Regions from separate parts of the Homo sapiens genome. Here all the other regions are linked to region 3. Evidence: fine-mapped expression QTL. A gene starts in region 3. Each other region holds a variant in brackets. All regions are shown on one strand. Distances are from middle to middle. Region 1 overlaps STK4 (serine/threonine kinase 4). Region 2 overlaps STK4 (serine/threonine kinase 4). Region 3 holds the start of STK4 (serine/threonine kinase 4). Region 4 overlaps STK4 (serine/threonine kinase 4).

What was found. PIP is the estimated chance that this variant, and not a neighbour inherited with it, causes the effect. A credible set is the group of variants that fine-mapping cannot tell apart.
Region 1: its variant is the best candidate, but not a certain one, in a credible set for the expression of STK4 in fibroblasts (GTEx, PIP 0.78).
Region 2: its variant is the best candidate, but not a certain one, in a credible set for the expression of STK4 in whole blood (TOPMed, PIP 0.54).
Region 4: its variant is the best candidate, but not a certain one, in a credible set for the expression of STK4 in blood mononuclear cells (TOPMed, PIP 0.67).

The regions. Positions count from the first base shown.
Region 1 is chr20:45,017,643-45,022,792 of GRCh38, forward strand. All of the region lies in intron 9 of STK4 (serine/threonine kinase 4), which reads left to right. Among named protein-coding and RNA genes, the nearest start is that of STK4, 54 kb to the left of the region's middle. The variant T/C (reference allele first, on the strand shown) is at 2,175.
Region 2 is chr20:45,051,375-45,056,524 of GRCh38, forward strand. The region is part of intron 10 of STK4 (serine/threonine kinase 4); the gene reads left to right. Among named protein-coding and RNA genes, the nearest start is that of KCNS1, 47 kb to the right of the region's middle. RefSeq lists a silencer at 456-525. The variant C/T (reference allele first, on the strand shown) is at 3,149.
Region 3 is chr20:44,963,914-44,969,063 of GRCh38, forward strand. STK4 (serine/threonine kinase 4) reads left to right here and starts at 2,599. Exons shown (of 11, transcript NM_006282.5): 1 at 2,599-2,690. The coding sequence starts at 2,656. STK4-DT (STK4 divergent transcript) reads right to left here and starts at 2,545. Exons shown (of 3, transcript NR_038341.1): 1 at 2,204-2,545; 2 at 1,649-1,772; 3 at 1-1,535. RefSeq lists silencers at 2,424-2,673, 4,354-4,483 and an enhancer at 3,814-3,893.
Region 4 is chr20:45,073,594-45,078,743 of GRCh38, forward strand. STK4 (serine/threonine kinase 4) reads left to right here. Exons shown (of 11, transcript NM_006282.5): 11 at 1,425-5,150. The coding sequence ends at 1,583. Among named protein-coding and RNA genes, the nearest start is that of KCNS1, 25 kb to the right of the region's middle. The variant T/C (reference allele first, on the strand shown) is at 2,709.

The sequences.
Region 1 (5,150 bases), 54 kb after region 3:
GATAAAATGGAGTTTCAAAAGACTGTAAAAGGTGAGACCAATTAGGAAATTCTTGCAAGAACCAAGATGTGGACCATTCTCACCTGTGAACATTTTTTATCTTTTTAGATGTGCTGCCACTATTGCTCTAGTTAGTAATCCTTTGAATTTTGGATTTAGCTCTCTTTGAATTTATATATTTCAGTTCACCAGAATTAAAACAGCTAGAGCACCATTGCCCAGAAATTAAGTCCATTCATATAGAGGCAGTTACTGAAACTGCTTAACTGGAAGAGTTATTCTGGGCTCCAGGGAACCTTATAACTTATGATTCCAGCAATTCTTAGTGGTTTCAAAGGACATTCAAAGGAATATTTATGGCTGTACACAGCTACTTGGATAGTAACCAGTGTAATTAAATGAGCTGATACATGTAAAGCACTTAGGTGCCTGGTAACAAAAACAAAACCCAAAACCACACACTCATAACAAATGTTAGAAAAAAACAAACCCTGTGATAAGAATTGCACATTAAGGCATACTATTCCAAGCCAGAGGAAAACATTTGCAGGATTACCAGAGTTGTTGTTGTTGTTGTTGTTGTTGTTTTTCCTGCAAACATTCATGCATGAAACAGAGAAAAAAAATCAGGCTCTGCCCAGTTCTCTGGTTTGCACAGAATTAATTACAATTTAAGTAGAAAAGAGTCATTGTAGGAATTAAGGAAACAGTAGGTTGACCATATTGGTTTACTTAGTGACAGTCTGGAAAATGAAGGTTTGAAATTGAAGGTCATGAAGTTTAAGGTCTAGTAGATGGTCATTCCAATGGAACAGTGGGCTTCAGTCTTTGGTCAAGGTCCTTCCCAGTTATGACTACCTAGACATTATGTTGTAGTTCATATGAATCCAGAAATAAGAGCAAATAGTTAAGGAAAGGTGTCTTGCTGCTTAAAAAAAATTGAGTTACTGACATATAATTTACACACCATACAATTTGTTCATTTAAAGTGTACAGTTTAATGGTTTTTAGTTTATTCACAGAGTTGTGCAACCATCACCACAATCTAATTTTTAAAATTCTATCTAATTTTTAAAGTTCTACTTTTTTTTTTTTTTTTTAATTTGGAGACAGGATCTTGGTCTGTTGCCCAGGCTGAAGTGCAGTGGCATGAGCATAGCTTACTGCAGTCTTGAACTGGGCTCAAGTGATCCTTCTGCCTTAGCCTCCTGAATAGTTGGGACTACAGGTGTGCACCACTATGCCCAGCTAATTTAAAAAAAAAATTTTTGTAGAGACAGGGTCTCACTATGTTGCTCAGGCTAGTCTCGAACTCGTGGCCTCAAGCCATCCTCCTGCCTTGGCCACCTGAAGTGCTGGAATTACAGGCATGAGCCACCATGCCTGGCCACTATTTTTAAATTGAGATATAATTTATATGTCATAAAATTTGCCATTTTAAAGCATAGAATTCAGTGTTTTTTTAGGATATTAACAAGGTGTTGCAACTTTAAGCACTATTGAATTCAAGACATTTTTATCATCCCCTCAAAAAACTCTAATCCTGTTAGCAGTCACTTCTCATTTGCCTCTCACCCCCAGGCAACCATTAATCTACTTTCTGTCTCTATAGATTTGCCTGTTTTGGACAGTTTATGTAAATGGAATCATATAACATGTGGCCTTTTGAGAATGGCGTCTTTCATTTTGCATAATGTTTTTGAGGTTTATCCATGTTATAGCATGTATCACTATTTCTTTTTGTTGCTGAATAATATTCCACTGTATGGATACACTGCATTTTGTTTATCTGTTCATCAGCTGATAGACATTTGGGTTGTTGATTCCTTCTGCTTTTACGTAGCATTTTTCAAAGAAAAATAAATGGAAGATACAGTTGCTTATGAATTCACTGCTTTGTCTGTAGGCTTAGACAGATTGTTCATTTAGCTTGACAAATGCTGCTTACAAAGAAAAATAGGCCAGTCTTAGCATAGGAATTCATGCATTTCCGGCATCAGATAAAAGAATCAGAGCAAGATGTGGTATTTTCAAGGCTTGATTTCTCTCTTCAGTCCATTCTTTCTACGGCTTTAGGTTTCTTGTATTATCATTCAGCTGAACATCTTTATTTCTTGGGATACATCTGAAAAAATATGCTAGCTCAAGTTAAAACAAAAAACCCACAAGCTAGC[T/C]GAAGCCCTGGGGGACAGCATGGCCTTTAATCAGCTTGGAATGATTCTCTTACACTTTTCAACCTGACAAGCTGCTGTCCAGCACACTTGATCATCTATCTAGCTAACGGGTGCTGAAAGAAAAGTTCAAAGATAAGGTTACTGGGAAAATTACATTTCCCCACTCTTTCTGCACTTAGTTTAATGGCAGTTCTAACATGTCAAGAATCTTTATTTTGATTTTAGAGACTGTACAATATGAGATGTAGATCACTAAACTTAAAACCTGACATTTGGCATTCAAGTCCCATCCTTGTTGGTTACTAGCTTAGAAATCTGCAAATTTCTCACTTGTAAAAGGGGCATAATAAATAACATATATCTCAAAAGACTCTTTGAGGATTAAGTGATATAGTACATTTTCTGGCACTTGATAGATGCCTATTAAGTGTAAGGCTTTTCCCCCTCTACTTTATATGGTGGTCATGCAGTTTGGATGTGCAGTTTGGATGAGACCATTATGTGAAAGCACCTAGTAGAAAGCCTGAAATGTAGAAGGTATTTAGTGAATGTTAGTTAAATTTGAACCTAAGTTTCCAAAGAATAGAACTCTTTTTTCCAGATTTAGGGGTGTATGTTTATGCGTGTGTGTGTGTGTGTGTGTGTGTGTGTATGTTTATGTTTATGTTTATGTTTATGTTTATGTGAGATAGAGATACTGAAACTGTGTCAGTTAGCTTTTGCTGCATTGTAAACCACCCTAAAATTTAGTGGTTTAAAATAGCCATTTTATTTAACTTGATTCATGATTCTGTAAGTTGGCAGTTAGGTTGGACTCAGGTAGGCAGGCAATTCTGGTCTGAGCTGGTTAGCTCTGCTCTGTGGTCAGCTGGTGCAATAACAGCTGGGGATGGCTGATTTATTTGTTGAGACATTTGTTGACTTGGGCCTCTCCACGTAGTATTTCACCATCTAGCAGGCTCAATCAGGTTTATTTATATTATAGTAAAATATACAAGACTTTTTTTTTTTTTGAGACAGGGTCTTGCTCTGTTACCCAGGCTGGAGTACAGTTGTGCGATCATAGCTCACTGCAGCCTTGACCTCCTGGGCTCAGGTGATCCTCCTGCCTCAGCCTCCCAAATATTTGAGACCACAGGTGCGTGCCACCACACCCAGCTAATTTTTTTAAAAAATTATTATTTGTAGAGACCAGGTCTTGCTATGTTGCCCAGGCTGGTCTCGAACTCCTGGGCTCAAGCAGTCTACCCACCTTGGCCTCCAAAGTGGTGGGATTACAAGCATGAGCCACCATGCCCAGCCTACACAAGAATTTTTAAGTCTCTTCTTGCTGTACATTTGCTATTGTCTCAATGCCCAAAGCAGGTTAGATAGCCAGGCCCAGAGTCATTGTGAGAGGGAGTAAGGTAAGGATGAAGATACCAAGAGGAAATTGTTGTGGCCATTTTTAAAAACAATTTATCTTAGATACTAATTGTGATAGGAATGCAAATCTGTTTACTGAGAATTATTATCAGTCTATAAAATCAGACTTAGTACAGGTGCTGCAATGTAATGACAGTGTTATTCACAATAGGAATACTGCTGTCTTCTTCATATAAACTTAACATGTCAGTAAAGCACTCTCACACATGAAGAAAGAATCATTATGGTGGAGGCATTTATTTTCTGGAATCACTAAATACAAGGATCAGCTAATTGTTTTTGAATGTCTGCTGTTTCTTGCCAGTTAAGGTGGCTTCCCCTATCAGTCAGTTCATTCAGTTTTTCACTTTAGTTCCATAAAATATTTCATCTGCATCTCTAGACGATATCTTTATTACAGTTTGAGTTACCTCTTCCATCTGTTAAACCACCAACAACAAAAAATCCAAAGAATCAGAGATACTCTTGTCACTAAAATATTTCTTGAGTCTTAACTATTTTTCACTTTGGTCTTTGCTTTATGCCTGTACACATCTAGTTGTAGCATGTTTTAGATGAGAGGCATCCAGTATCATAATCCTACTAGAGATAAGAACTTCTTCTTTTGAATAGTTATTAATAACTGAGCATAAATATGTTTTCATATGCTACTGCCAAGTCATAAAATCACGGAATTTTTCAAAGCTGCAGGGAACATTAGATATAATCTGGCCCTGTGTCTTCTTTTTGCAGATTGGGAACCTGTGGTTTTACCAAGATCGTGTAGTCAGAACCAGAATCTAAATCTTTGAACTGCAGGATAGGGATTACTTTCCATTTTTTTTTATTGTGGTAAAATATACATAACATAAAATTTGAGGAGAGGAATTTTTCCGTTCTTCTGTCTCCAAAATCAACTTTAGCTTTTTGGCAATCTGATAAATGTAACATTTTAACTAATCATTTTGCTATAATTAAATTTCTAATACATATGTGCATTTTACTTACAGCTTATATCTGAATATGTGGTTAGATAAAAAAAATTCTCTTTTTATTTCACTTTAGTTTTTGGAACTTCGAATTCTAATAAATGTCAGGTATAATCAGGTCCCTGGTATTGATATCAGAAGGTAAAAGCAAATACATTTTAGATAGACTTTCTTATTTGTGGATTTTCATTGTTGAAAGAGACAAAGAACAGTTGGTGTTTTAACTCCAAAAATTAGAAATTTTTAAGTGGGTTGGTAAGAAAGAAGAACTCAAATATGAGGCAAGCAGATGTTCTCACTTTTTCATCTGAACAGTGACAGAAATAGACAAATAATTATATTCTCACTTAACAGACATTTCTTTGATTTTTATGACATGGTTTAGAATTAGACCACAGAAATGTTATCTTTAGTGTTTCATCATCCTTGGTTTAAAGATTCAATTTCTTAAGTCCACCTGTATTGCAACTGAAAGTAATTAATGAAGAACCATAGAAATATATTGTTTTATTGTTGGATATAATACATTTTAAAAAAGAATGACGCCCTTATGGTTTTTGTAAATTCCATTGGAGAAAAAGTT
Region 2 (5,150 bases), 87 kb after region 3:
AGCCTTTGATGGTCCAGGCCTCTTGTTGCTAGGGGGCTTTTTGGGAGACAAATTCAAATCCTTACTGTCTAGCTCATTGTTATTGTATCTTTTAGTGAGTTCCTTTTTTCATGGTAGTTCAATAAGTGGTTACCAGGGGTCTTTCTTTGACAGTTATTACTAGCTTCTCTTGTATAGTGGGATTTAGCTGTGGGTTGATTTGTTGTGCTGGTATGTTTTCAACTGCAGCGATGCATTGCTCTATCACATGGATTCTTTTTATAGCTTCATTAGAGGTGTTTTAGTTCCTCTTTTGAATATTTATCTGAGTATCTTAGTACCTTGGCAGTCACACTATCCTAAATTATTATAGTGCCTTCTAAAGTAGATTTTGTCATTGAGGCTTATGTTTAGGTCAGGCTTGCAGGCAGGGAGACAGATTATGCCATTGTGGTTGAGAGGCATATAGTGGTTAAAACCACTGGAGTTATTCTGTTAGGGCTCATAGCCTATCTTCTCCACCTATTATGCCACCTGTCTAACCCTTGATTGTCTTATCTGTCAAACATGGTAAAGTCATACCTCTTTCATAGGGCTGTCGTGAGTATCAAATGAGATGCAGGTTGCGTAATCCCAAATCCAAAAATCCAAAATCCAAAACACTTCTGGTCCCAGGCATCTTGGATAAGGGATACTAAACCTGTAATGCACGTAAAGCACCTTTAGGACAATGGTCCTTACTGCTGGCCTGCAATAAGCACTTAATAAATGTTATTATTTTCTTCTTTTTTGGTGTTGGTTTGCTCTTCTATAATGTTACAATGCTATTTTGTTAACCTTCTAGTTGTAAAAACACACTCATTATAGAAAGTTTAGAGACTGAAGAAAAGCTTAAAGAAGAAAATGTCTCTTACAACTCTTCCACCCCCCCCAGCAATAATAATTACATTTTAACATTTCCTTCCAGTTTTTTAATACTTAGATATTATTTTACACAGCTGAGATCATTCTGCATGCATAATAAATCTTGATTTTTTTTCACTTAACATATCTTAAACATTTTCTCATATCATTAAAAACACTTGTGAAATCATTTTTAAGGGTCACATAGTAGCCCATCACATTACATTCTTTTGATTGATTTAATCATCCTCTTTTTACTTGGCATTTAACATTTGGGGCTTTTTTGGTTGGAGTTGGGTTGTTTTCAGGTCGTTCTAATATATTAAGCCAGGCTTTTTTCTTGTCAACAGGAGGTTTGGGGATTGAGTCTTTGTGATTGTTTTTATTGTTGCATTTTTTTGCCTGTTGAGTGTGTGAATTAAGCTGGGGTTTTAACCATCAGCACCTGCGCTCTCAGACTCTTGCCACCACCTTTCTGGACAATCTCCATGCTCTGCTTTTTAAACTTTTTCTGATGAGTTTCTTTTCTTCTGTGCTAGAAGAAAGATGAATGGAGACTATGTTTGGTGTTTAGGTTTCTGACCCGGCAGTGCCATGTGAATGCCCAGTAGCTAGCCAAGGTCAACAGCACTGCCTGTTAATGGCTTTTTACTGAAGTAGTCCTGTCGAGCAGTTTCTGGTGAGAAGACTATCCTAAATTGTTCTTGACAGGGTACACTATTTTTGTTTCAACTTCTTATTTTTCCTGTAAAGCTTGGTTTAAAGTATGTTGAGACTGAATTTATTTGTGCTTTGGAATATAATGAGATTTTGTGCTCTTTTCTTTCAGAAAACTAGCCAAGAACAGCAGTCTGGAAAAGACATATGTATCCAAAATTGCCAGGGAAACCTGCTGTGTAGATACGCTTTCTGAGAAACCACATGGTAAATGAATGTCATCTTTGTCTCAGAACCACAGTAGCCTGGTTCTGCTGGTGGATCGTGCTAGCTGATTTGAGCTGGGTTTTTAACTCAGTTATTGAAATGGCTTTGAGAGCAGGACTTAAATGCCTGCGGTTTTTGACCTCAAGAGGTTGCTTAAAACAGTATCAGCCTGTGTGAGCCTGAGACTGTTTTTCATTTCCTTTGTTTGGTTCGGAGACTGCTTGATCCATGGCTGCTTGGCAGGCTTCTTCTTTAGCGTTCATTCTTGTGGCCATTTATTCTCTGATATTAAACTACAGGATAATTTTAATCTCAACTACATGGTGAGAAAAAGAGCTGAGTCCAGACTGGCTCAGAAATGGAGCCTAAGAACTGCAATAAGTATCCTAGCACCTTAGGCCCTAGGAAGGACTGTTCCATAGTTAACTTCTGTGTGGCTTCACTGTAAGCACAGGTGACAGATGGGCATGTCTTGAATTCCTAGAAGCCATTGTCTCTCTCAATCATCTGTTCCAACACTGTATCAGAGAATGATAAACTTTCAGAATTGAAAAGGGTCTTAAAGGACATATTTTCCAGCTCTTGCTATATTTCCAACAAGAGGCATCATCTCACATTTGCTTGACTACCTGCAGTCATTTCTGAGAAGAGGGAATTCCACAAGTTGGAAGTAGTTCAAATCATTGCTCAAAGCTGTGTGTAAAGATAGTAGTTTTTTTTTGTTTTTTGTTTTTTTTTTCAGCCAAAATTTGTCCCCAGGGAACCTCTATCCATGAAATTTTGATTACTTCTCACAGGAACTTTAGCAAAAGTTAGTTGGGATTGTCTGGATTTTCCGTTTTGCAGATAGAGAAAGCCACCATCTCTTTCCCCTAACTACTTAGTACTATGGTAACTTGGGTTTAGGAAAATTTGCCAGTTCATTGTTACCAAGGCAAGTGACTAAATCGTGGGTTCTCTGTATGCTAATGCTGCCCCGCATATAGGCTTTACTGCTGTCCGTGCTTCATTCTCTCTCTGTTTAGCTGAGAAAATGAGTGTGAAAGCACTTAGCCAATAGTAGTAGATGTTGGGTGACATTTCATTAAAAGTGCAGACTCCTGGCCAGGTGCGGGGCTCACATCTGTAATCCTAGCACTTTGAGAGGCCAAAGCGGGAGGATCCCTCGAGCCCAGGAGTTTGAGACCAGCCTGACCAATGTAGCTAGACCTTGTCTCTACAAAAAATTAAAAAATTAGCCAGGCATGGTGGTGCCCACCTGTAGTCCTGCTACTCAAGAGGCTGAGGCAGGAGGATCACTTGAACCCGGAGTTTGAGGCTGCAGTAAGCTATGATTGCACCA[C/T]TGCACTCTAGCCTGGGCAACAGTGGGACACCCTATCTTTTTTTTTTTTTTTTTTCAAAAAAAAAAAAAAAGGAAAAAGTACAGACCCCAGAGTCAGACAGAACCTGATTCAATTTTGATTTCAACCACTTGCGGGCTGTGTTAACCTCAATGGATTATATAATTCTTCAAACCTCAAATTCCCCATCTGTAGCACTGGGTTAATAATTATAGCTGTAAGATTTAATGAAGAGCAAATGAGATTAATACATATAAAATACTTAATGTATGGCTGCTAATAATGAACAGTTAATGCTTAAAAAATTCTGGCTTTTATTATTGCTATTGTTACTATTCCTGTAATCACTGTCCAACAAGGTCCCTGAATCTGCCCTCTCATTAAGGCAATACAGGCAGAGCTTAACCTTCTCTCCCACCTGTCCTTGTGATTTCTTCTCTCCATAGGACTACCCTTGGTATTCATTTTCACCTGATTTACCAAGAATAGCAATATAAGCATCAAAAGAAGGGGTGGGGATGGGCATGTACACAATTTCTCTGGCCCCTGGATATCCCTGCTTCTCTTACATGGGGAGGTTTCAGGAGTGACCTTGTTACTCTGCCGTGTTGTCAGAACTGGAGGTTGGGCGTTAACTTATTTTTTCTCATTTTCCTGCCTTTAGGGAAAACACGTATATTCAGAAATATCATGGTTGTCTCTATTTTCAGAGATGGTTTCATCCTCTGTGGCTCTGTCATTTGAGTATGTGTTTTTAACAATCTACTCATTCCACTTTGTCCTTGTGGTCTAGATTTCTTAGTAGTCAGTTTTGTTTGGTTTCACTCCAGATGTAGGTCTCTGCCGCTTCCCAAGACATCTTAATTTCATGCACATTTAAAAATTTATTGGCATCAAGTTTCAGATTTTAAAATTTGCAGTATCTGTATTTATAGCTTGCTTTTCATTCCTGTTATTTGTTTCTTCTTTTTTTTCCGGGGGGTGGGGATCAGTCTTATCAAAGTGTAATTTTTTTTTTAAGCCCAAACCAGCTTTTGGTTTTGTTGATCCTTGCTACTGCACATTAACTTTTGAATTCATTAATTTATGTTCTTACATCATTTTCTTCTTTCTGCTTTCTATGGGTTTATTTCTCTTTTCTTCACTTGGACAATTCAGCTTACTAATTTTTAATTATCTTTCTTTTCTTTTTCTTTCTTTCTTTCTTTTTTTTTTGTTTTCTTTTTCCCCGAGACGGAGTCTTGCACTGTTGCCCAGGCTGGAGTGCAGTGGCATGATCTTGGCTCACTGCAATCTTTGCCTCCCAGGTTCAAGCAATTCTCCTGTCTCAGCCTCCCGAGTAGCTGGGACTAGAGGTGCACACCACCATGCCTGGCTAATTTTTGTATTTTTAGGAGAGACGGGGTTTCACCATGTTGGCCAGGCTGGTCTGGAACTCCTGACCTCATGATCTGCCTGCCTCGGCCTCTTAAAGTGTTGGGATTACCAGCGTGAGCCCCCGCGCCGGGCCCAATTATCTTTCTTTTCTAACATACATTTAAGGCTGTAAAATTTCCTTTAAATACTATTTCAACTACCTGCCACAATTTTTTGCTATGTAATATTTTTGTAAAGTCAGATTTGTTGAGGTTTAATTTATATGCTATAGAACATGCTCCTTTTAAGTGTACAGTTGGATGAGTTTTAATAGAAATATACAGTTGTATAAATACCACCATAATCAAGCTATAGAACATTTCTAATATCCCATCAAGTTCCCTTATGCCCTGTTTTTTGTCCCTAAAGTTTTGTCTTTTCTGGGATGTCAGATGAATGGAATTGTGCAGTATATAGCCTTTTGTGTTTGGCCTCATTCACTTAGCATACTGTTCTGAGATTTGTTCATTTGTTGCATATGTCTGGAGTTTGTTCCTTTTTATTGCTGAGTAGTTTCCATTGTATGGATATTACCAGAATTTATCTGTTCACTACTACTTTATTTTCAGTGGGAGAAAATGAGAGTAT
Region 3 (5,150 bases):
TCACCCCAAAATGAAATCTCACACCTTTTAATCATCCCCTCCAATTCACCTATGCTCCCTTCCACCAGGGCCTTAGACAACCACAAATCCACCACAGGATTTGCCTATTCTGAACATCTCCAAACCTGCCAAAGCTATGCCATTAAAAGGCACTACAGCAAAGAGCATCATGCAACTTGCATCACACTGGGGGCCTGGCACAGAAGTGGCGGTGGTGGCACCAGGCAGGGCCTGATCCACGGGGTCCAGGGTGACCATGTGGGTCATGCAAATGGCATTACACAAATATGCCATGCTTGGCTAAGTTTTTTGTAGAAAAGGGGTTTCACCATATTGCCCAGGCTGGTCTCGAACTCCTGTTCTGCCTTGGCCTCCAAAAGTGCTGGGATTACAGGTGCAAGCCATCATACCCAGTCCCTTGAATACTGTTATGCAATTGTTCCCCATTTTCTGCCAGGTGTTGGTTTGAGGATCTATTAGGATACTAAAATGTGAGTATACTCATGTACTATAGTTGACCCTGCAGAACCTATGGAAACGAAAAGTCAGCCCACCCTATACACAGGTTTCACATCCCATACTGTATTTTCCAACCATGTTTCATTGTGGATGTGGAACCCTCTGATAGAGAGGGCTGACTGTATTTATTGAAAACAAAACAAAACAAAACAAGGGTTGTATTGGTGGACCCATGCAGCTCAAACCCTTGTTGTTCCCAGGTCAACTGTATATCCAGAGCTTATAGGAAAATACCTCTCCCAGTAACCCTGCTCACCATTTCTCTCTTAAGCTATTATTATGATTAGCCACGGTTTGCTATTTAAATTTAAATTTAAATAAAAATGTGGCCTTTCAGTTATGCTAGCCACATTTAAAGTGCTCAATAGCCATATGTGGCTAATGGTTACTATTTCGGACAGCACATATTTAGAACATTCCCATCATTTCAGAAATTTTCATTGGGAACACTCTGCGGAAAAAGGGGGCCATCATAATGTGAGTCCATCTTCTGGAAAAATCCTGGGAAGGGGACAAAGGAGGTCTGTTTGGCATTGTGTAATGGTAATTTGGTATTTAATTTTCAAAAATGTTTACCCAATTCCTATTCATCAGCCAGGTGTGGTGGCTCTTGCCTGTAATCCCAGCACTCTGGGAGGCCGAGGTGGGAGGACTGCTGCAGCCCAGGAGTTTGAGACCAGCCTGGGTAATAATAGGGAGATCCTGTTTCTACAAAACACCAAAAACAAAACAACAACTTTGATGTTGTGGAGTCAGGACAGTCCTGGGTTAAAACCTTTGCTCTCCTTAGCTGTGTAAACCGTGGGTCTCAGCTTTCTTATCTGTTAACGGTAGGTACTTCTTCCTAGGGCTGTTTTGAGGATTAAGTGAAAGTCCAAGATTGTGTCTGGCACACAGTAGCTTCTCAGCAAATGTTTTCCTCCTATGTCAGGGAATGGCTCCTTTATCCCGTTTTGGGCCCATGGGTGGCCCTGAAGGGTGGGTGCTCAGGTGTTAAGTTCTGTAGATGGCATATCCTTGGGAAAAGCAAGGCAATTAAAAACAGTGAGAGGTTGCTCTGGTTAAGTTTTCTCCTATAACTTTCCCCATGGGTCAATTGGGTAGAATCTGCCATTTTCCTAATACTTACTGATGGTAGTGGCATTCGGAAGCACAATAGCTGAAGCCGGAGCTCTGAGTGGAGAGAAAGGTCTGTTTCTCAGGCCCAAAAAGAGGTTACACACCCATGGCTGTCCAGTTTGGTGGTGCAGGCCCTGAAATCAGACCAAACTGGATTTAAATCCCCAAACCTATACTCTAAGCTATGTGACCTTGGGCTAGATACTTCACCTCTCTGGCCTTATGAAGTAGGAATAATAATAATACCGTCTAGGTTGTTAGGAGTATTAAATGAGGTAAAGCACTGAAAACGTTTAGGGACTGTGTTAAATCATTAAATAAATAAAAACGGGGATGACCTTATCGGCTTGACACAGGGGATTAAATGAGATAATATATGAAGACAAGTACACGGCAAATGCTTAATTAATGTTGCTTATTTTTATGTCTGCAAACTGACTTAAAGGGGAGGCCTTTAAGAAAGACAGTGGGGCAATTTGCGCGTTGATGCATTGTAGGAGAAAATGTGCAGGGGGCCCGTTGGGACCAGAGTTCAACCAGGTAAGCGGCAGAAAACCACAAATACCTCCAGGCGTTCCTGGGGCAGCGCCGCCTCCCCAAAATCACGCAAAACTTGGTTTGCTAAGAATTGTCAGCTCTTCTAAAGGAGGCGCTTCACGCATCTCAGTCTGTGAAATGGGACCCAGGACCCAGGTAGAGGTGCGTTCTCGGCCTGGGGACCGAGTATTTTGTGCGCTCCGGTAACGCAGGAAGACAGCGCCACTGACACTCTAGAGACCAGCGGGCACCGCCTGGAGGCGCCTTCACCACTTGGCGGTTCCGGGTCCGCGCCCCACCGCGCCACAAGACTCACGCCCGAACCACGTGATCAGGGCCGTGGCTCCGCCCCGCTCCCGCGCCGCGCGCCGCTTCCGGTAGGGGCGGAAAGCGGAAGTGTGGGAGGGTCTGCGGGGCGGGCTCAGGAGGTCCGCGGGAGGATGGAGCAGTGAGCGGGTCTGGGCGGCTGCTGGCAGCGCCATGGAGACGGTACAGCTGAGGAACCCGCCGCGCCGGTGAGGGGCCACTGGCTAAGAGGACGGGCATGGGGTCAGGGGAAGAAAAGGCGGGAACTGGTTGAGGGGATACACCTGTGTGGGAGTCCCCGGAGCTAAGCGACCCAGCCGATGGGGCACCTGCTGAGTGAGGGGGGGGACGTCTGGTGGGTGAGGGTCCGGCTGAGGGGAGCATCTGCTAAGGAGGTTAGACTTGGGACCGGTTAGAGGGAGCACTCGCTGTGGTGAGACTGTGCTGAGGAACGTGGGGACAAGTTAGGGAGAGTACCTGCTGAGGCCGGGCCACTCGGGGGAACGCTATCCAAGCAGGGACTCACGGAGGTGGGGGCGAATGCTGAAGCAGGGTGAGAATCTGTGAGGGATCTCTTTAAGGGGGTGGATCGAGAACTGGCCAAGAGGAAGGCCGGGTGGACTTTCTAAGGGTCTGAAGTCCCACTTGAGGGGTGCGGTGGGGGGATCTGTGGAGGGGAAAAGCTTTGCGCCTAAGGCTGAAAGCATGCGAGGAAAGGTTGAGGGTCTAGCAAGGGAGGGGATGGTGGAGGGTAGCATTTCAGAGGATGCTGTTGGTGGTGTCCCCACTGTAGGATGGCATCTTTTATTACTGATGTTCAGTGTCTTCCTAATGGTCTTCACATCCTCCTCAGCTCTTCAGAACCTGACATTGGGAGGTAGGTAAGGAAATAAGAGGATATTTTCGAGATGGGGAGACTGAGGTCCAGAGTAGTTGGGAAGTGTTTCCTTCTTTACTCCGGGTCACTGAACCCTGCCAGTCTGTGCCCTTTTCAGGCCTCAGTTGTTTTGTGAATATCAGCACCAAATCCTAGTGGTACCTGGAATTGCTTTAGTTCAAGATCAGGATGGTGGCTGATCCTAGAAAATCTCAACTCCTGGATTTCCCTTGTGGACATCCCGGGTCTTTTGCCACTCTACCACATCTGGAGAAAAGTAGGGACTAGAGACCGAAGGAGTCATGCTTCTCTGAGGTTCAGTGTGGTTACTTCTATTTCACAGAGACGTCTGACTTCCTGCAGCAGAATGAGCTCTAAAGAAGGAAGTGTTCAGGGTGTGGAAGTGCAGGGCAACCAAGAGGTGAAGAGAAGGGATTGACTGCCTGGGCAGCACTCTTAGGGGTTGTTTGAGCTTGGGGATGTTTGAGGTGCACAAACATTGCAGAAGGCAAATAGGTGGTTGGGATGGGCTTTGGATTCACCCTAGCGTAGTGTGCTGAGACTGTAATAGTAATGATTATTACACTCATATTGCACTTACCGGGTGCCAGGCACTGTTCTAAGTGCTTTCCATGTGTCCTGCTGAAGCATATGAAATTGCTGATATTTGACCATTTTTGAACCATAAAAACCTCATTTGAACTCATTTGAACCTCACAACAATCCTGTGTGGTAGATATCCCTATATGTCTGTTTTACAGATGATAAAACTGAGATACAGAGGGTAGTGATTTGCTGGGAGAAGTCATAGCAAGTAAGAGACAGAGCTAGGATTTTAATGTCTATGGGGTCTGGTCCAAAGTCCATGTTCTTTTTTTTTTTTTGAGACGGAGTCTCACTCTGTCGCCCAGTCTGAAGTGCAGTGGCGCAATCTCGGCTCACTGCTACTTCCGCCTTCTGGGTTCAAGCGATTCTCCTGCCTCAGCCTCCTGTGTAACTGGGACCACAGGTGCGTGCCACCACGCCTGGCTAATTTTTTGTAGTTTTAGTAGAGACGGGGTTTCACCGTGTTAGCCAGGATGGTCTCTATCTCCTGACCTCGTGATCCGCCCACCTTGGCTTCTCAAAGTGGTGGGATTACAGGCGTGAGCCACCGGGCCCGGCCATGCTCTTAACTGCCTCACTCTGATGCCTCTCTAAAAGTACCCCTGTTTCACAGGTCTCTGTGTATGTTAGCAGATATTTACTATAGTACCATAGTGATCCAATTATGAATGCACACTAGTTATGTTTCTTTCTGAACTATGTTCGTTCGTTCTTCTTGGTTTCTTTCTCCGAGGCCTTGGTTTAATTGAAAAGAGGATTAGGAATCTGAGTTTTGTTTCCCCCTTTGCCTTGTCTTACATAATCTTGAGCAAAGGACTAAAGTTTCTTGGCATGCTCATTCCTGTACCTTTTGGATTTTAAAAAATGTATTAAAAGCACAAGAGAAGAGCATTGCAGGACTGGGTTCTGAAGTGGCTGGTGATTCCCAGCTCATTGTAACTAGTAGATTGCCTAATTTGAAGCAGATCAATTTTATTATCACGTGTATCAGTTTATCAGGACAAGACAAAGTGTCATGGAGTGGGTGGTTTAAGCAACGTAAATTTATTCTCTCACTGTTCTGAAGGCTAGAGATCTGAAATCAAGGCATTGTCAGAGTTGTTTCTTTTGACGCCTTTGCTTGACTCGTAGATGGCCATCTCCCTGTGTCTCCATGTTCTTCCTTCTGTACCTGTCAGTGTCCTAA
Region 4 (5,150 bases), 110 kb after region 3:
TTTGAGTTCTTGAAACACTGTACCTATTAAACTGGTTGTGAGCACACAGAATAAAGTATCACCACCCACTGTGGATAATGTCAGCATTCATTCCCACCCCTGACAGCCAATATTGGCCAGGCTTGGAATCACTGAACACACATGGCAGCAGAGTCCCTTGCCCCATAGCTGCAGACACAGGTTGAACACTGGTGTATCCCTGGGCTTTTATGAAGAGAGAGGCTTATAACACCCATTGCCATCTTTACACACACAGTGCAGCAGGTACTGTGCTGAGAACTTTACAGCCGTGATCTTATTTAATTCTTACAATACATGTGATGAGACACTGCTGTCTGACTTCTGTAGATGGGGAAGGCCTGGAGAGATTGGTAACTTGACAGAGTCTCATGGCATCTGCAACAGGCAGAACCACATTTTAAACAAAGGTTGAGTTACTTCTAAAACCTGTGCTTTGCTAGTCTTCTGTTCTGCAACACTGGTTAAGAGCATAGACTCTAGAGCCATGCTGCCTGGGTTTGAGTCTTGATTCTGCCACTTACTAGTTGGGAGACATTGGGCAGGTTACTTAGCTACCCTCCTCCTTGGGCTGTTCATCTGTAACATAGGGATAATAATGTCCTTGTAGCATGGGTTGCTCTGAGGATTAAAGGAATCCATATATGTAAAGCACTCAGTGTCTGGTGCATAGAAAACACTAAATGCCAGCCATTATTATTAATTTATATATCAACTCATTGTTTTTCTTTGGATGATAGAAACTTAATCTCAGAAGTTTGAGGTTTTTCTAACTACCCACCCTTACCCCAACCCCTGCCAAGGGTTGCGTCTGTATTCCCAAGGGGCTTAGACTGTTACCTGGTATATAGTAGCCTCAAGTAAATGCTGGTGATGATAATAGGGCAGTGCCAAGACATTGGGGGTGTGGGAAGGCAGGGTTAGGGGATGGCATCTGCGCCTCATCAGCATCGATCCTCCATGGTGTCGTATCCTGAAAGTGGGAAAGGCGCTGTCCAGATAGACGCTTATCTCGTAGACAGAACAAGAACGGGGAGGCAACCATTATTTCACATACAGCAAGTTACTGTTATTTTAATGCCCTAACAATGAATCTATATTTAATTAACTTAAAAGATAGGGGAGGTGAGAGTATTATTCACTAAGTTCTTGGTCAAGGCACATTAAATCAAAGCGGTTAGCACTTAGATCTCTTCCAGGGATAAATTATCTCAGACAAGCTTCAAGGTATGCCATGCTTTGGAATGAATTGTCACTTTCCAACCACCACCACTCAACCTGTGATCTGACCACAGTGTCTTCCTCCTGTCTCCCTTCCCTCTGGGTGCCTGGGAAGGCTGGGCTTCTGCACTGTTCTGCCACTGACTTAAGCTTTGTCGTGACTATACCTTCCACTTCTCTTCTAGCTTAAGAGTTGGACAGTGGAGGACCTTCAGAAGAGGCTCTTGGCCCTGGACCCCATGATGGAGCAGGAGATTGAAGAGATCCGGCAGAAGTACCAGTCCAAGCGGCAGCCCATCCTGGATGCCATAGAGGCTAAGAAGAGACGGCAACAAAACTTCTGAGCAAGGCCAGGCTGTGAGGGCCCCAGCTCCACCCAGGCTTTGGGTGAATTCTGGATGGCTTGCCTCATGTTTGTTAGCCAGCACTTCTGCTCTGTCGTCTCTCCACAGCACCTTTGTGAACTCAGGAATGTGCGCCAGTGGGAAGGGCTCTCTTGACAGTCAGCGTGCCATCTTGATGTGTGTATGTACATTGGTCAGGTATATTATCTCAAAGGATTTATATTGGCGCTTTTAACTCAGAGTTTTAAACCCCAGGAACAGAGACTCCTAGTTGAGTGATAGCTGGGAAAGTTTTACATTGTCTGTTTTTCTTCTCCCAATAGCTTTCAATTGTTCTTTCTGGAAGACTTTTAAAAAAATATAAATATGCATATATATATATAAATTATAAATAGATTCCCCACGCAGTGTGGTGGCATCTCTGTACAGGTACAGTTTTAAACGGTTTGCCTCTTTTCTGTAAGATTATGGTACTGTGGAACATGAGGGCAGAGGACACCGGGAGGCTGTTAGGGGGTCACTGAATCCCAGGAGCCAACCTCCCCCTTTGCAGGGCTGCATTTAAAAATTAGGTTTGGGACAGTTCTTGTACCGTGGTTTCAGCCTTGTGTGGTCATCACTGGCTTCTGGAGCTATTGGTGATGTCCAAGGGAAAGCTTTGAGAGTTTATGTTTACTCTTTGAGTCCCAGGAGAAGCCTGGCACCCTCTTTGCAAATTGGCCTTTGCTCTTTCAATGCCTTTCATCCATCTCCACTCTCTCAACTGCCTAAAGTCACAGCACAGATACTGCCCAGTGCCTTAAGAGGAGACATGATCTCTACCAGGGACTCTCAGCAAACACGGGACTGTGTTCAGTCCACAAAGGAAAAGCGTTTTTGAAGCTCTCATTGTTCATGTAAAAATCATACACGTGGCATGTTGCTCCACATTCCTTACACACAGGGGTAGAGGGGATTGCTTTTGTGACCCACGTTCAAATATGTGACTGTTTTCTTTTCTCTTTTACTGCTAAGCAGCCTGGAAAGGATAAATGAATATTAGACTAAGATTTGTTTTCCAGGAGGCTCAATCTGAACACACAGAATGTCAGAGCTGGAAGGGACTATAGAGATCATCTGATCTGA[T/C]CCTCTTGTACGGATGATCGCAAAACTGAGGTGTAGAGAGGGGAATGGCCAAAATCACAAAGCAAGTTAGCGTTAAGAGCTGAGACTAGAATTCAGGGTCCTCACTCCCAGGCCACCGAACCATGCAGCCCCTTCTTTGGGGGAAGAGACCTGTGTCAGTCTTGGTTAATTGTTCCAGGGAACCTTGCTAACAGAAACTTGCTCTTGCCTTGGCTCTTCAGTAGATGACCTGGCTGTAAAGAGATTCCCTGGACGAGCCAGATCATTCAGTTTCAGCGAGTCCTTGAGCTCCACAACATCTACCAGATATAGCAGACAAGCACCCATGGAGGCAGGTTTCGGGCCTGAAGCAGATCAGAGGGCTTTGCAAAAGACAGCATAGAGCCATCTTCCTGCAACTTTACCTCTTTCCCTCAGATGGGGAGCCATGACTGGGTTGCACCTCAGGATACTGTAATTTGACTCCATAATTGCTTTTGCTCCTGAAACCTGGGAATCAATGGAAAGGCAGGGAATGTGCCTCTTCTGTGGCCAGATTCTGTTATTTGCAATTAAAGCAAGTTTTTAAAAAATGCAAGAGGCAGTTGTTAGTCTTCAGGGCTTGGCAACTGAAATAGCTATGTGGCGGATACGGAAAACAGAGGACAATTTGAGGATCTTGCTGGAATAATAAATGACAGCTACCATTTGTTGAGCACCTATTATATATCAGGCACTGAGCTGGGTAGGCTCTAAACTTCACAATAACCCTGTGACTTAACTACTTTATCTCCATTTTGTAGTTGAAGAAATAAGTTCAGAGAGAAAGATTCCTTCCCAAGGTCATGCAGCTAGTAAATGATAGAATCAGGATTCATAGCATCACTATAGGGGGTCAATATTTACACAAAAAAGGAAAGTCACAAGCCTGTTTAAAATGAAGTGACCACCTTTTCTTGCATAGACTAAATAACTCGAACTGGCATTTTTAGGTTGGAAAGACAGCTGAATTAGTAGTTAAGTCTGATAGCCAAGTAAGTTTTAAAAACCAAAGCATCCAGGATGCACACCCCTGCACCATTTGCTGTGCGAATTAATAGTTCTGTCTCTCTCTCTCTTTCTTTTTTCTTTTTATTCTTTGAGATGGATTTTCGCTCTTGTCGCCCAGGCTGGAGTACAATGGCACGATCTTGGCTCACTGCAACCTCCGCCTCCCGGGTTCAAGCGATTCTTCTGCTGGGATTACAGCATATGCCACCATGCCCAGATTATTTTTTTGTATTTGTAGTAGAGACGGGGTTTCACCATGTCAGTCAGGCTGGTCTTGAACTCCTGACCTCAGGTGATCCACCCGCCTCAGCCTCCCACACTGCTGGGATTACAGGCATGAGCCACCGCTCCTGGCCTCTCTTTCTTTTTTAAACAAAGAACTTTGCACTTGGCCAGAGAGGAGGAGAAAGCCCATTTTCTCCCTTCCTAAGCTAGATCCAAATAAAAGAAAGTTCAGTTTTCCCCCATAACTATTCTTGGGTCATGAACTTTGATCTGGAGTTTGTTTTGTTTCAGGAATGTGTGCACCCAGCTTGCTGATCCAACAAAGTCTATTGCTTACCAGTCTAGCTTGATGAAGCCTTTTGGCCAGAAGTCAATTTGTTTTGGATCAGAGAAATTTCCTGACAAGGTATATTTGTTTTCTAGTGACAGAAAGGCAAAGGAACAAGTCCTAGTTGTTGTTGTTGTTGTTGAATACTAAATTTAAGATATGTCAGCTTGCTTTCAATGAGCCTTGGGCTTCTGTTATTGCTTGAGCATTTGGAACTCGAGCTTCCAGAGAAATTTGAGGTCCTCGCTTGTTCTCTGCCTTCAAGAAACAATGACCTGATTCTGTCTTTAAAAAAAAAAATCTCAGAATTCTTTTTTTGTTTGTGTTTTTTTTTTTTTTTGAGACAGAGTCTCACTCTGTTGCCCAGGCTGGAGTGCAGTGGCGCCATCTCGGCTCACTGCAACCTCCGCCTCCCAGGTTCAAGCAATTCTCCTGCCTCAGCCTCCCAGGTAGCTGCCACTACAGGTGCTGCACCACCACGCCCGGCTAATTTTTGTATTTTTAGTAGAGACAGGGTTTCACCATATTAGCCAGGTGGGTCTTGAACTCCTGACCTTGTGATCCACCCGCCTCGGCCTCCCAAAGTGCTGGGATTACAGGCGTGAGCCACCTTGCCTGGCCAAAAATCTCAGAATTCTTTAAGACTGTTTTAATTGCTCCATCAGTAATTTTGAAGCACTTTCCTTTTTTTTTTTTTTTCCCCTTTTTGTCCCTTTCCCCAAGCCACCAATTGGATGGATGAATGTTTGACGGGGAAGAGGAAGGGTAGGAGGATGCATGGATGAGTGGATGAGTGGATCGATGGATGTATTGATAAATAGATAGAACCAGTCATCTGAAGCAACTTAAGAATTGTAGCC